Regions from separate parts of the Homo sapiens genome. Here region 2 is linked to region 1. The links come from fine-mapping of genetic effects on gene expression. Tissue or cell type: whole blood. Region 1 holds a variant in brackets; the other region holds the start of a gene. All regions are shown on one strand. Distances are from middle to middle.

The links. PIP is the estimated chance that this variant, and not a neighbour inherited with it, causes the effect.
Region 2: it holds the start of GADD45B, and the variant in region 1 is fine-mapped to the expression of GADD45B in whole blood (TOPMed, PIP above 0.99).

Annotation. Positions count from the first base shown.
Region 1 is chr19:2,616,238-2,624,337 of GRCh38, forward strand. The region is part of intron 2 of GNG7 (G protein subunit gamma 7); the gene reads right to left. Among named protein-coding and RNA genes, the nearest start is that of MIR7850, 10 kb to the right of the region's middle. RefSeq lists enhancers at 2,934-3,228, 4,561-4,860, 5,740-5,939. The variant C/G (reference allele first, on the strand shown) is at 4,152.
Region 2 is chr19:2,471,273-2,479,372 of GRCh38, forward strand. It overlaps GADD45B (growth arrest and DNA damage inducible beta), which reads left to right and starts at 4,855. Exons shown (of 4, transcript NM_015675.4): 1 at 4,855-5,130; 2 at 5,257-5,358; 3 at 5,757-5,979; 4 at 6,216-6,985. The coding sequence starts at 5,087. The coding sequence ends at 6,329. RefSeq lists silencers at 3,496-3,635, 4,006-4,115, 7,676-8,100 and enhancers at 4,856-4,925, 4,927-5,514, 5,496-5,585, 5,515-6,104, 5,746-5,855 and 5 more.

The DNA of each region.
Region 1 (8,100 bases):
ATCTCTAATTTATTATTATTATTTTGAGCCGGAGTCTCGCTCTGCTGCCCAGGCTGGAGTGCAATGGCACGATCTCGACTCATTGCAACCTCTGCCTCCCGTGTTCCAGCGATTCTCCTGCCTCAGCCTCCCGAGTAGCTGGGATTACAGGCGTGTGCCACCGTGCCCAGCTAATTTTTGTATTTTTAGTAGAGATGAGGTTTTGTCATGTTAGCCAGGCTAGAGACTCCATCTCTATTAAAAAACAAACAAAGAAAGGCTGGGTGTGGTGGCTCATGCCTATAATCCCAGCACTTTGGGAGGCCAAAGCGAGCGGATCACCTCAGGTCAGGAGTTTGAGACCAGCCTGACCAACAGGGAGAAACCCCGTCTCTCCTAAAAATACAAAATTAGCCGGGCATGGTGGCGGGTGCCTGTAATCCCAGCTACTCAGGAGGCTGAGGCAGAATTGCTTGAACCCGGGAGGCAGAGGTTGCAGGTTGCAGTGAGCCGAGATCACGCCATCGCACTCCAGCCTGAGCAAAACCCCATCTCAAAAAAAAAAACCAGACAAATATAGCTGGTGGGTTCTTGGGCAAGGCTGGTGACCAGGGCCCTAGGGGAGGATGTTTCCAAGAGCTGCCAAGAGCAGTGGGGCCCGGGTTCTGCCCGCCTCTTCCTCTGACTGTTTCCTCATCTGGGGTCACGGGATAAGTGCAGCTCCGCCTCCCTGGTCATGCAGGTGACTGTGAATGAAAGTGTCTTGGAATCAGAAGGTTCTGGCATGAAAGCTTTGCACCAGCCTTCCACCAGTGTGCTGCCCAGCACGTGACTATCGGAAAAACTTTAGCTTATTTCAGCCTAATTACATTCCGTTAACCCAAAGTCTCTGACGTTCAGGGCTGGATCATTCTCTGGGATGGGGCCATCCTGGTGCACTGCAGGGTGCTGAGTGGCGTCCCTGACCCCCACCCACTCCATGCCAGGAGCATCTCCAGTCGTGACAACCACAGATGTCCCCAGATATCACCCAGAGTCCCCTGGAGGCAAACCTGTCCCACTTAAGAACCGCTGGCCTGGACCAGAAACTGGATCTTTCAGGGAGGCAGAGCTCACCAGCCATCCAGGCACTGAGCCCGGCCCAGCCCTGCAGCTCTGACCCTGCCTTGGGCTGTGAGCTCTGAGGACCCCATCAATCTGATCAAGAAGCCACACTAGGTCACCTCAGACCAAGGACATTCTGCCATGATGCTTCAGACTGTTCTTCTCCCCATCCTCCTCTCCACCTCCAGCCCTCAAAGACCTGGCCTGGGTCCCCTCCCGTGGCTCCCAGACCTCCGCTTCCAGGGAGCCCTCCGGAATGTCCTTCCTCCTGCCTTCAATGCTCCTCCCCATCCTGCAGGGGTTGGCAAGGATGTCCCCTCCTTAGAGACCTTCCTGGACACCACGTGGCACAGACTCTCTCCTCTTGGTGCCACCTCATCCTATTTTGTCTTTTCCTTTTTATTTTTTTTTTTTTTGAGATAGGGTCTTGCTCTGTTGCCCAGGCTGGAGTGCAGTGGTGCAGTCACAGCTCACCGCAACCTCAGCCTCCTGGGCTCAAGTGATCCTCCTACCTCAGCCTCCAGAGCAGCTGGAACTACAGGTGTGCACCACCATGCCCGGCTAATTTTTTAAATGTTTTGTAGAGATACGGTCCTGCTATGTTGCCCAGGCTGGTCTCAAACTCCTGGCCTCAAGTGATCCTCCCACCTCGGCCTCCCAAAGCGCTGAGATTACAGGCGTGACTATTTCCTTATCTTCTAAGACCCTCTGTTTGGTTTGCCAGTGTGTCTGGGCATGTGCTGTCTCTGTGTGACACATGCTCCCTGAGAACAGGACTTGATTCCACCTGTATCAGGCTGGGCCCCCAGCACCTAGGCTGTCCCTGGCACACAGTGAGTGTCGGGTCAATATTTGCGACTGACCGACGGGTTGGCCTTCCATCTACTCTTCCACTCACCAGCTTCTCCATCTTGCCCAAATCCCTGCCAACCCCAGGGCACTGAGGACACAGATTACTCCTCACCCATGCCCCTTGCAAAGCTCTCAGCCACATTTTTCTCTTTTCTACCTGTATGTGTGTGGTGTGTGTGTGTGTGTGTGTGTGTGTGTGTGTATCTCACTCTGTTGCCCAGGCTGGAGTGCAGTGGTGCAACCTCAGCTCACTGCAACCTGCACCTCCCCTGTTCAAGCGATTCTCCTGCCTCAGCCTCCCAAGTAGCTGGGATTACAGGCACGTGCCACCACACCCACCTAATTTTTGTATTTTCAGTGGAGACGGGGTTTCGCCATGTTGTCCAGGCTGGTCTCGAACTCCTGACCTCAAATGATCCACCCGCCTCGGCCTCCCAAAGTGCTGGGATTACAGACGTGAGCCACCGTGCCCAGCCTGTTCTATTTTTTTTTTAATAAACAATTTTATTTGGAGTAATTTTAGATTTACAGGAAAGTTGCAAAGAGAGAGTCCCCGCCCACGCCTCACCAGCTTCCTCTTCAGGGGCCACCCTGTGTAACCACAGGGCATTGCTCACAGCTGGGGAACGCTGGCACCTTCCTAGTAACCAAATGCCACAGCGATTCAGCTTCCCTCAGTTTTCCCCTCACGACCTTTCCTGCCCCATTGTGACCCCATCCAGGAGCCCATGTGGCATCTGACCGTCCCATCTCCGTGGGTTCCTCTGGGCTCTCAGTTTCTTGGTCTTTCTTTGGTATTTCCATGAACTTTTTTGTTTGTCTCTTTAAGAAAACGGTTACTATCCATGAAAAACAAACAAACAAAAAATGTCATTCTGGCTACCCTGAGAGCTTATAATTGCTATTTTAAAATGAATGAATACCTATTTGATTGACATTTTCTCAGTTTTGATTTCAAATTCAACAAATATCCGTAAGTAGAAGGCATATAAACAAAAGCTCCTTGGAATAATCGTCAGGACCAGAGAGTTTGAGAACCTTTGTCCTAAGCCAGGGGTTAGCTAACTACGGCCCCTGGACCACATCTAGCTGACTGTGTGTTTTTGTAAATAAAGTTTTATTGGCACACGGCCACACCCACTTGTTGACATATTGCTTGTGGTGGCTTTCCCGCTACAATGGCAGGCAGAGACTGTCCAGCCTGCAAAGGCTAAAACATTTGCCATCTGGATCTCTGCAGAAAAGTTTGCTACCCCAGGCCTCGCACATAGTAAGTTCATAGCAAGTATTTGTTTATAGTAAGGCTGAGCCCTAATCAGGGTGAAGGGCAAGGTCAGACATCGGAGGACCACTGAAATGTCCATTCTGTCCCACCTGGTACAGCAAACGCCACCATGGAGCAGGACTCAGCCATGAAAAGGAACAAGGCTCTGATGCCGGCCACAGTGTGGATGGACCTTGAGGACATCACACTCTATGAAAGGAGCCAGAGACAGAGGGCCACGCAGTGTGTGATCCCATTTCTACGAAATGTCCAGGACAGGCCCATCCATGGGGACAGGGAGGGGATGCGTGTGTGGCAGGGCTGCCGGGGGGAGATGGGGAGTGACTGCTCATGGGGGACAGGGCTTCTTTTGGGGGTGATAGGATGTTCCGGAATTAGATAAAGGAGATGGTTGCACAACTCTGTGAATGTAAAAACCGCTGAGCTGCACATTTTTAAAGGGTGAGTTTTACGCTGTGTCAGTTATATCTCAATAAAGCTAATCCTAGCATTTTGGGAGGACGAGGGGGGGGCGCGGATCACCTGAGGTCGGGAGTTCAAGACCAGCCTGACCAACATAAAGAAACCCCGTCTCTACTAAAAATACAAAATTAGCCAGGCATGGTGGTGCGCGCCTGTATTCGCAGCTACTTGGGAGGCTGAGGCAGGAGAATTGCTTGAACCCGGGAGGTAGAGGTTGCAGGTTGCAGTGAGCCGAGATCGCGCCATAGCACTCCAGCCTGGGCAACAAGAGCAAAACTCTGTCTCAAAAACAGAAAAGAAAAGAGGAGAGGGGAGGGGAGGGGAGGGGAGGGGAGGGGAGGGGAGAGGAGAGGACCCTGTAGAATGAAAGAAAGGCAGATCCCCCTGCACCCTGGCTACAGGCCGTCGTCCCGACCCCTCTCTCTGCAGGCAGGTCACTGCCCCCCTCACAAACCTCTGTCCTGATCCC[C/G]CAACCCACACACCAGAGCTGGGCCCATGCACCGGGAAACCTGCCACCCCAGGGGCCACTCCAGTCTCAGACCAACAGGATATTAAAAAAGGCGAAACCTCAGAACCGTTTCCTATCGAAACCAATTAGAAAGCTCTTGGGTATGAGTCCAATGTTTTCAAGCAACTAAAGGCAAAAGAGAAGATTTTCAACGAAACATCCCAGCTGGGGGTGAGCTTCTTAGGGTCCTGTCATCGGCCACCCTAGAGGGACCTAGGGGTGAGCTTATGCCGTCAGCACCCCCAGCCAACGTGGGTCGGCCAGTTAGCTGGGCGTGGTGTTGTGCGCCTGTAATCCCAGCTACTTGGGAGGTTGAGGCAGGAGAATTGCTTGAACCCGGGAAGTGGAGGTTGCAGTGAGCCGAAATCGTGCCATTGCACTCTGGCTCCGGGCAACAGAGCAAGACAGCTCTGTGCAGAGAACAGACTCCTGCGGTGGAAATGCTGGCTGCCTTTGAGGCTGGGTTCTGTGACCTTGGGTTTCCCAGCCTGAGCTTCCAGTTTCATTTATAAAAGGGGTGACGTGGCCGCCTTCCTGCAGGCGCTCTGAAGGTGGCAGATTACACAGAGGTGGTACGACTCATACAGGTTTCTGCAAACGGGGGCCCCATCAACAGTCACCTTTCCTTAGCACAGCGCCTTCCTCCTGGGGTGACCTCGCCCCTTCCTGCACACCCCAGGAGCTTCCTGAGACCTGAGTAAAGCTCACTTCCCTTGCAAGGGGTTTAGTGACGTCCCTTCAAAATTCTTGTCCACGGGGAACCTCGGAAAATGACTGTTACGGACTAATTGCATTTGCTTAAAACTTATGTTGAAGCTGGATGTGGTGGTCCACACCTGTGGTCCCAGCTACTCGGGAAGCTGAGGCGGGAGGATTGCTTGAGCCCTAGGATTTCAGGGCTGCAGTGAGCTATGATGCTGCCACTGCACTCCAGCCTGTGCAACACAGCAGCAAGACTCCAGACACAAAAAATTAATTAAAGAAAAATGGCTGGGCACAGTGGCTCACTCCTGTAATCCCAGCACTTTGGGAGGCCGAGGTGGGCAGATCACCTGAGATAAGGAGTTCGAGACCAGCCTGACCAACATGGACAAACCTCATCTCTACTAAAAACACAAAGTTAGCCGGGCGTGTTGGTGCGCGCCTGTAATCCCAGCTACTCGGGAGGCTGAGGCAGGAGAATTGCTTGAACCTGGGAGGCAGAGGTTGCAGTGAGCCAAGATGGCACCACTGCACTCCAGCCTGGGTGACAGAGCAAGACCTCATCTAAAACAAACAAACAAACAAACAAACAAAAACAAAGAAGGAGACACAGAGAGACAGCAGAAAACAGAAGCAGAGACTGGAGCAATTCGACGGTAAGCACAAGCCAGGTTTGCCAGAGCCCCCAGAAGCCAGAGGACGCGGAAGGATCCTCTCCTGTAGCGCCCAGGGGAGCACAGCTCTGCAGACAGCTTGGTTTAGTACTTCTGCCCTCCAGAACCGTGAGAGGACACACGTCTGCGGATTGATACTTCCGGGTCTGTGGTCACCTGTTATGGCAGCCACAAGAGGCTCGTCTGCCCCTTTTCTCTCCCCTTCCTTCATGCTGATCACCACGGAGGAGTGAGTTCGATTCCCTCTGCCTGCCCAAAACCCTCATCAACTTTTTTTTTTTTTCTCTCTCTTTTGAGACGGAGTCTTGCTCTGTCACCCAGGCTGGAGTGCAGTGGCGAGATCTCGGCTCACTGCAAGCTCTGCCTCCCGGGTTCACGCCATTCTCCTGCCTCAGCCTCCTGAGTAGCTGGGACTACAGGCGCCCGCCACCACACCCGGCTAATTTTTTGTATTTTCAGTAGAGACGGGGTTTCACCATGTTAGCCAGGATGGTCTCGATCTCCTGACCTTGTGATCCGCCTGTGTCGGCCTCCCAAAGTGCTGGGATTACAGGCATGAGCCACCGCGCCCGGCTCCTGGTGGTTTTTAAGCTTGCAAAGGGTGCGGGATAAGCCCTGCAGAAGTCAATGGTCAGTAATGAGGGCTGGGGATTCAGCCCATCTCCAGGGAAAGCCCCCGAAACTGGCAACACCAGCTGCTTCCGGGAAGGGGAACCCAATGCGAGCAACGCGGCAGAGAGGGGGCTTCCGGGAAGGGGAACCCAACGCGAGCAACGCGGCAGAGAGGGGGGCTTCCGGGAAGGGGAACCCAACGCGAGCAACGCGGCAGAGAGGGGGGCTTCCGGGAAGGGGAACCCAACGCGAGCAACGCGGCAGATAGGGGGCTTCCGGGAAGGGGAACCCAATGCGAGCAACGCGGCAGAGAGGGAGGCTTCCGGGATGGGGAACCCAATGCGAGCAACGCGGCAGAGAGGGAGGCTTCCGGGATGGGGAACCCAATGCGAGCAACGCGGCAGAGAGGGGGCTTCCGGGAAAGGGAGCTCAATGCGAGAGCAACGTGGCAGAGAGGAGGGCTTTGTTTTCACTTTCACCGTGTATCATTTATACCACTAGAGCTCTGACACCCCGGGCACGGCCACTGATAGAAAACATTGGTCCTTCTTCCTGGGGGTGTGTGGCCAAGTGAGGGTGGGTGAGGGAGAAGCCACTTTCCGGCTAAGGTCCTCAACACCCAGGCTCAGTCTGAGCTCTTCTGTGTCCCAGGAGGCAAAAAGGTGACCACAGGTTGGGCTGTAGTATCAAACCCAGAACAAACGGGGTGTTCCAAGCCTGGGCAACATAGCCAGACCCCATCTCTACAAAAAAATAATTAGCCAGGCGTGGTGGTGCACCTGTAGTCCCAGCTACTTTGGAGGCTGAGATGGGAGGATCGCTTGAGCATGGGCATTTGAGGCTGCAGTGAGCTGTGATCGTGCCACTGCACTCCAGCCTGGGCAACAGAGCAAGACCAGGTCTCAAGAAAACAAATAAACAAGGTGTTCCTTACCCAAAGGAATTGCAAGGAGGGGCTCGGACAGATACTTGTACTGTTCACTCATGTTCACAGCACCCAAAAGGTGGAAGCAATCAATCCAAGCGTCCATCAACAGATGGACAGATAAACAGCATGGTGCATCTGTATGATGGAATATTACTCAGCCATGAAAAGGAAGGGAATCCCAACACAGGCTGCAACACGGATGCACCTTGAGGACGTCACGCTCAGTGAGAGAACCCAGACACAAAAAACCAAATTGGCCAGGTGTGGTGGCTCACGCCTTTAATCCCAGCACTTTGGGAGGCCAAGGCAGGTGGATCACTTGAGGTCAGGAGTTGGAGACCAGCCTGGGCAATGTGGTGAAACCCCATCTCTACTAAAAATACAAAAATTAGCCGGGCATAGTGGCAGGTGCCTGTAATTCCAGCTACTCAGGAGGCTGAAGCAGGAGAATTGCTTGAATCTGGGAGGCGGAGGTTGCAGTGAGCCGAGGTCGCACCGCTGCACTCCAGCCTGGGCCACAGAGCGAGACTGCATCTAAAAGAAAAGGACAAATCTTGTGTGACTGCACGCCTAGGAGGTCCCTAGAGCCGTCAGATTCACAGAGACAGTCCATCTGTTGATGGACGCTTGAGTTGCTTCCACCTTTTGGCTGCTGTGAACATGAGCGAACAGTACAAGGGAAGCAGGATGGGGGGTGCCAAGGGCTGGGAAGGGGACGGGGAGCAAGTGTTTCACGGGGACAGAGATTCAGTCTGGGAAGATGGAAAGTTCTGGAGATGACGGTGGTGATGGGTGCAGCACCATGCAAATGTGCTTAATGCCACTGAACTGAGCCCTTAGAAATGGCTAAGATGGTAAATACTATGTTTCATATATTTTACCACAATTAAAAAAAGAAAGAAAGGGCCGGGCGCGGTGGCTCACGCCTGTAATCCCAGCACTTTGGGAGGCCGAGGTGGAAGGATCACGAGGTCAGGAGATCGAGACCATCCTG
Region 2 (8,100 bases), 140 kb before region 1:
CCCCCCCGCAACACCGTGCCCAGCCTGCAGTACGTTTTTTTATTTTTTATTTTTATTTACTTATTTTTTTGAGATGGAGTCTTGCTCTGTCACCCAGGCTGGAGTGCAGTAGCGCGATCTCGGTTCACTGCAAGCTCCACCTCCTGGGTTCACACCATTCTCCTGCCTCAGCCTCCTGAGTAGCTGGCACTACAGGCGCCCGCCACCACGCCCGGCTAATTTTTTGTATTTTTAGTAGAGACAGGGTTTCACTGTGTTAGCTGGGATGGTCTCGATCTCCTGACCTCGTGATCTGCCCACCTCAGCCTCCCAAAGTGCTGGGATTACAGGCGTGAGCCACCACACCCGGCCACATTTTTTTTTTAACTCTGAATGAATGCAAAAACCTCTATGCTGGATAAAATTTTAAAAATTTATTTTGTTTAAAGCCAAATACGGTGACTCACGCCTGTAATTCCAACACTTTGGGAGGCCGAGGCAGGCAGATCATTTGAGGTCAGGAGTTCGAGATCAGCCTGGCCAACATGGCAAAACCCTGTCTCTACTAAAAATACAAAAAATTAGCTAGGTGTGGTGGAGGGCGCCTGTAGTCCTAGCTACTTGAGAAGCTGAGGCAGGAGAGTCACTTGAACCCAGGAGGTGGAGGTTGCAGTGAGCTGAGATTGCGCCACTGCACTCCAGTCTGGGTGACAGAGCGAGATTCTGTCTAAAAAAAAAAAAAAAAAAAAAGATTATGACAGGATTACTCATACTGATTATTCCTCTCACCTCAGGCTCCAAGATGGCCTCGGCGACACTGTTATTGATCTCATTTTTTATTTTATTTTATTTTTAGACACAGGGTCTCCCTCTGTTGCCCAGGCTGGAGTGCAGCGACACAATCATAGCTCACTGCAGCCTCAAACTCCCAGGCTCAAGTGATCCTCCCACCTCAGCCTCTCACGTAGCTGGGACTACAGGTGCGCACCACCACGGTCGGCTAATTTTTAAAATTTTTGTAGAGATGGGGTCTCCCTATGTTGCCCAGGCTGGTCTCAAACTCCTGGGCTCAAGCAATCCTCCTGCCTCGGCCTCCAAAAGTGCTGGGATTACAGAGGTGAGTTCTGGCGCCCAGCCCAAAGATAATAGCACACATTTCCTGAGTGCTTACCTGATTCTGGGAATTTCCTCCTTCAATGCCTGTGATGAAGCCTTTGTGTGACTGTTCCCATCTTACAGAGAAAGAAACTGAGGCTGGAGCTCATTTTCTTTTTTTTTTTTTTTTTGAGAAAGAGTCTCACTCTTGTTGTCCAGGCTGGAGTGCAGTGGCACGATCTCGGCTCATTGCAACCTCCACCTCCCGAGTTCAAGCGATTCTCCTGCCTCAGCCTCCTGAGTAGCTGGGACTACAGGCATGCGCCACCATGCCTGGCTAATTTTTATATTTTTAGTAGAGATGGAGTTTCACCATGCTGGCCAGGCTGGTCTTGAACTCCTGACCTCGGGTGATCCACCCGCCTCGGCCTCCCAACATGCTGGGATTACAGGCATGAGCCACCACGCCTGGCCCGGCTGGAGCTCATTTTCTGAGCTCAAAGGCACAGAGCTCAGAGTCTCTTGAAGATATTCCAAGATACTCCAGATATTCTAAGATGCCTGGAGCCAGGGCTGGAAAAAGGAGGCACAGGTGGGCTTGGGGTCTAGAAAGAGAAGCCTGGAGGGTGGAGGACCATGGGGGTCCAGGCAGTCAGTCTGGGAGAAAACAAGGCCAAGTCAGTGTTGACAGAGGAGTAGGGTTTTCCTGCTGAAGACCAGAGGAAGACAGCATCCCAGGCGGAGGAAACAGCTGACAAAGGCTGGGCCTCTCGCAGAGGAGGTTGTTATGGCTGGCACGGGGGACACACGGAAGAAGGACTTGGACACATATTCTCTGAGGCCCTGCTTTGCTCGCCTTATTTTATTTATTTTATTTGCTTTATTTTTGACACAGTGTCTCGCTCTGTCTCCCAGGCTGGAATGCAGTGGTGCAATCTCGGCTCACTGCAACCTCCACCTCCCGGGTTCAAGCGATTCTCCTGCCTCAGCCTCCCGAGTAGCTGGGATTATAGGCATGTGCCACCATGCCCAGGTAATTTTTGTATTTTTTGTAGAGACGGGGTTTCACCATGTTGGCCAGGTTGGTTTTGAACTCCTGACCCCAGATGATCCACCTGCCTCAGCCTCCCAAAGTGCTGGGATTACAGGCATGAGCCACCGTGCCCAGCCCTTATTTTATTTATTTATTTGAGACGGGGTCTCACTCTGTTGCCCAGGCTGGAATGCAACTGTGCAATCCCGGCTCACTGCAGCCAGGAACCCCTGGGCTCAAGTGATCCTCCTGTCTCAGCCTCCGGAGTAGCTGGGTGCACACAACACACCCCATTCTTTCTTTCTTTTTTTTTTTTTTAAAGACTGAGTCTCACTCTGTCACTCAGGCTGGAGTGCAGTGGCACGATCTCGGCTCACTGCAATCTCGGCTTACTGCAACCTCTGCCTCCCAAGTTCAAGCAATTCTCCTGCCTCAGCCCCCAGAGTAGCTGGGATTACAGGCATGTGCCACCACGCCCGACTGATTTTGTATTTTTAGTAGAGATGGGGTTTCTCCAGGTTGGTCAGGCTGGTCTTGAATTCCCAGCCTCAGGTGATCCTCCTGCCTCAGACTCCCCAAGTGCTGGGATTACAGGAGTGAGCTACCGTGCCCGGCCTTTTTGTTTGTTTGTTTGTTTGTTTGTTTGTTTTGGGGAGGATGGAGTCTCTCTCTGTCACCATGCCATGTGCAGTGGCATGATCTCGGCTCACTGCAACCTCCACCTCCTGGGTTCAAGTGATACTCCTGCCTCAGCCTCCTGAGTAAGCTGGGATTACAGGCGCGTGCCACCACGCCCAGCTAATTTTTGTGTTTTTAGTAGAGACAGGGTTTCACCATGTTGGTCAGGCTGGTCTCGAACTGACCTCACGATCTGCCCGCCTCAGCCTCCTAATGTGCTGGGATTACCCAGCCTGCAATACTTTTTAAAAATCAAAATCAATGCCCAAGTATCCATGAGGAACAAAATATCAAAATTGTAAATAAAGACAGAATCTGACTTTGCACTTATCCCACCCACCTCCCTGATCTTCCTTATCTTCAGCTCATGTTGGCCATGTTGGTCAGGTTGGTCTCGAACTCCTGACCTCAGTTGATCCGCCCGCCTCGGACTCCCAAAGTGCTGGGATTACAGGCGTAAGCCACCGCGCCCGGCCGATTTAACTTTTAAATTGAAATTATAAAATATAAATATGTATGTTGCATGCGTAAAACATTGCATAAAGTTACATAAAACGTTGCAACCGCCACGGTCCCCTTATCCCCCGCCTCCAGCCCAGTGCCCCGCCCGTCCGTCCCTCTCTTCCGGCGCTGAGGGCGCAGAAACTCGGCGCGGCCACCAGATGGCGCCACCGCGCCTCGCAGCCCCGGGACATTTCGTGCCCCAGCGGTGGGCGGCGCGGAGGAGGTGGGATGCGTCAGCCGGACCCGCGGGCCGGGGAGCCGGGCAACTGGGGAAAGTGAGCCGCCGGGCGGAGGCCAGACCCCAGGCTGGCGGGGGAGGGGACTCAGATGTGAGTCACCCGGGAGCCCCCAGTCGACCGTGGGAGACGTTGTCATGCGGGGCCTGCCAGCCTCGCTCCTGAACAGCCTTCCCGGGGCGGCGGAGTCCTGCAGGCGGCCGTGCCTGGCGCACACGCGTGGCTCCAACACGAACTAGCCTATGGCCTCACCAAGCCTCAGTTTCCCCTTTTGCATAATGCACATAAGCATCCCCCCTGCTTCCCAGGTCTTGGATTAAATCATCCATGAATCCGGAGGGGTGGGGGGTACCAGGTCCGCACCACGCACTCAATGCAGGTCAGCGCCCACCCCGGAGTGAGAAATAAAAGTAGCCGTCATCCTTGCACGTGGGCCCTGGGTGGCGGCGTGCAGCCGGAGCCTGCACCATTCCCCTCAACAATGGCTTTCTCCAGGGCCTGGAGGCCTCCGCACGGGCAAAGGCTGGAACGCCAGGCAGCCGGCGGGGGCGGGGCCGCGCCACCTGCACCTCCCACGCGCACCCCACCCTGATACTCGCGGGGTCGGCGAGGAGGCGCCCACTTTCTTCTCCAGAGCGCCCCGGGCTTTGCAACCTCCCACTTTCGGGGCCCTCGAGGAGGCCTCCCGCGACCACCAGGTGACAGCTGATGTGTATTGGGCTCTTACTGTCAGCCGTATTTTATGCCATGCTCTGCAAACCAGCGAGGCCGGCGCTGCAGACCCATTACTCAGACGGGAACAGAGAGGCCGGGAGAAGCGAAATCACCCAGGGGCTGGGGTCGTCGCAGCCAGGAGAGACTCCGGCCCTCACCACCACCTGGGCGAGATCACGCTGCAAACGGGGCCCCTTCCCGGTGCAGCCCCTCCACCCCCAGCAGAACTTGGGAAAGGCGCGGTCCGGGACTCTCCGCGGATCGGGAGGGGATTCCAGGCCCCCCCGAAAGTCCGGGCCGCCTCGCGCGCTGGAAATCCCGCGCGCGCCCCGAACCGCGGCTCGGCTGCCGGGAAATCAGGAGAAAAAAACTTCTGCTTTTTTTTCTTTTCTGGCATTCGCGGTCACCTACCCGGCCCCCGCGCGCCCTCCTCCCGGTTCTCGCCCCCACGTGGGGCGCCCCCGCACGCCGCTCCTCCCCCTCCCCTCCGTCGGCCAACCGCAGAGCTAGCTGCACTCGCCCTTGTCTTTCCACCAATAGGAGGGGCGAATGACTCCACTGAGGCCACGCCCAATGTTCAAGTCTATAAAAGTCGGTGCCGGAGGCTCCCAGCTCAGATCGCCGAAGCGTCGGACTACCGTTGGTTTCCGCAACTTCCTGGATTATCCTCGCCAAGGACTTTGCAATATATTTTTCCGCCTTTTCTGGAAGGATTTCGCTGCTTCCCGAAGGTCTTGGACGAGCGCTCTAGCTCTGTGGGAAGGTTTTGGGCTCTCTGGCTCGGATTTTGCAATTTCTCCCTGGGGACTGCCGTGGAGCCGCATCCACTGTGGATTATAATTGCAACATGACGCTGGAAGAGCTCGTGGCGTGCGACAACGCGGCGCAGAAGTAAGTAGCCGGGGCTGCCGCCGCCTGAGGTCAGCCGGGACGGGATGGGTCGGGTTGGGCCGGGCCGGGAGCGGAACGTAGCACCCGGTGGTCCGCCCGTCACTGATCCCTCTTTCCTGGTCTCAGGATGCAGACGGTGACCGCCGCGGTGGAGGAGCTTTTGGTGGCCGCTCAGCGCCAGGATCGCCTCACAGTGGGGGTGTACGAGTCGGCCAAGTTGATGAATGTGTGAGTCAGACCCCCTTCCCGGGCTGGGCGCGGGTGGGACGGGACCTCCCCTCCGCTCTGGACGCTTTCCGCACGCTTGTCTTGCATGGAGCTGGGACTTCCCCAAGTGCCCCCCGCTGTGGATGCAGAGCTTCTCTGCCGTTTTGTGGATCGGGGGCTGCCGTATCCTGATGTATCGTCTGCAAACACCCCTCCCGCCGTGGGCCTGTCTCCCCCTACCCCATACTTTGAACCGTGTGCCCTCCCCTCCCCCCACCGTCACCAGCTTGCAGAGGCAATCCCCTGCACCCTTGCAGTTTCTCTTTTGCTCTTGCACGCTCCTTTTTTGCAAACTCCCCCTGCACGGTGGCCCCTCCCCTGTCCCCGGCTGACCCATCCCTACCCTTTGGCCCCCTCAGGGACCCAGACAGCGTGGTCCTCTGCCTCTTGGCCATTGACGAGGAGGAGGAGGATGACATCGCCCTGCAAATCCACTTCACGCTCATCCAGTCCTTCTGCTGTGACAACGACATCAACATCGTGCGGGTGTCGGGCATGCAGCGCCTGGCGCAGCTCCTGGGAGAGCCGGCCGAGACCCAGGGCACCACCGAGGCCCGAGACCTGCATTGTCTCCTGGTCACGGTGAGTCGGGCCTCTGCCCTGCCCCGCCACGCCCGGGCACCTGGGCCGGTGTTTGTCAACAAAGTCGGGCTGACTGGTCCTGCACAGCTCAGCGCTCAGCCACGTTTGGCATGTCCCGTGGGCAGCCGGGCTGGGGCCTCCTCACCCAGGAAGCTATTTTGAGCCTGACTGTTTTCCCCACACAGGGGCCCCGGGAGAGGGAGGCTCCACTAAACCCCTTCTTTTCCCTCCTACAGAACCCTCACACGGACGCCTGGAAGAGCCACGGCTTGGTGGAGGTGGCCAGCTACTGCGAAGAAAGCCGGGGCAACAACCAGTGGGTCCCCTACATCTCTCTTCAGGAACGCTGAGGCCCTTCCCAGCAGCAGAATCTGTTGAGTTGCTGCCACAAACAAAAAATACAATAAATATTTGAACCCCCTCCCCCCCAGCACAACCCCCCCAAAACAACCCAACCCACGAGGACCATCGGGGGCAGAGTCGTTGGAGACTGAAGAGGAAGAGGAGGAGGAGAAGGGGAGTGAGCGGCCGCCCCCAGGGCGGAGATCCAGGAGCTGGCGGCCGCCGATCCGATGGAGAAGGGGGGACCCAGGCCAGCAGGAGACAGGACCCCCGAAGCTGAGGCCTTGGGATGGAGCAGAAGCCGGAGTGGCGGGGCACGCTGCCGCCTTCCCCATCACGGAGGGTCCAGACTGTCCACTCGGGGGTGGAGTGAGACTGACTGCAAGCCCCACCCTCCTTGAGACTGGAGCTGGCGTCTGCATACGAGAGACTTGGTTGAACTTGGTTGGTCCTTGTCTGCACCCTCGACAAGACCACACTTTGGGACTTGGGAGCTGGGGCTGAAGTTGCTCTGTACCCATGAACTCCCAGTTTGCGAATTATAGAGACAATCTATTTTGTTACTTGCACTTGTTATTCGAACCACTGAGAGCGAGATGGGAAGCATAGATATCTATATTTTTATTTCTACTATGAGGGCCTTGTAATAAATTTCTAAAGCCTCTGGTTGCTTGTATGTTTTCGGCTTCTAGAACAACTAGGACCCCTGCCCCCTCCCCGGGGACACGCTTCACCCCCCACAACCCCCGCCAGCTCACCAGGAAGTGTTACTTAAGCCCCTGTTAGCAGCTCCAGGCTCCCGTGCAGAAACAGTACCCCTTCTCTCCGCAGCAGGCGCCGCCACCGACTCCAACAAATCTATGCCTCTTTTTTTTTTTCCTTCTCCTCCTACCCTGCAGCAATTAAGAGACCGGTTTATTACGAAACCTGGCCGCCGTGCCACCACTGTTACTGGCTGTGCAGGAGCCAACCCCAAGCTCTGGGCACATATGGAGGCATTTCAGCGGGAGGGGGTGCTGGCTGCAGCCCCTGACCGCCTAGGCGGCCACCGCAGCCCAAGGTCCGGATCGGTCAAGGGGGCACCTGGTACCACACAGCGAGGTGAGCTCAGGGCTTGCAAGGAAGAGCGCTTTTGGAGGCTTCCCCAGGGAGTGCCCCCCCAGCCCACCACAGCCTTCTCCATCCCAGGATAGGCCTCTCTTTTGCACTAAAGAAAAAAACTTTTTTTATTTCCGCAAACTAAAATCAACAAGCAGAAAAATACCCCAGGAAGTCGGCCTCCGGGCCAGCCGGGCTTGGCGCAGTGCTGCGTTTTGCCTGTAAACCGAAACTGCGAGCCCTGGCCAGCCACCTCCTACTTCTCCCAAAGTTGCAGGCGCGGTGGTGACTCCCCCTGCCCCGGGCTGGGAGCGTGGCCCAGCCCTTCCGTGCCCGGCCTCAGTCTTCCCGCCCCGGGTCTGCAGAGTGGGCCCGCCCTGGCCAGGCGCCGGGACGACCTCGGTTCCCCTCTGCCCTGCAGCCCCCAAGCCTGGGAACTAGGGGGGAGTGGGGAGGGGGTGGGGTGGTCCTGCCCGCAGGCCGCGACCTTTCCACGGAGCCTCACGTGGGCGCATGAGGAAAACCCCAGCGGCTCCCTAGGAGTCACGGGGATCGGGGGAGCCCCGACGGGGGAGGGAGAGAGAGAAGGAGGGGGAAGTCCCAGAGGGAGAAGCGGGGAGGGGAGAGGATCCCGCCTGGGGCTAGGAGGAGGGGAGAACTGAAGTGGGGAGAGGGGAGCCC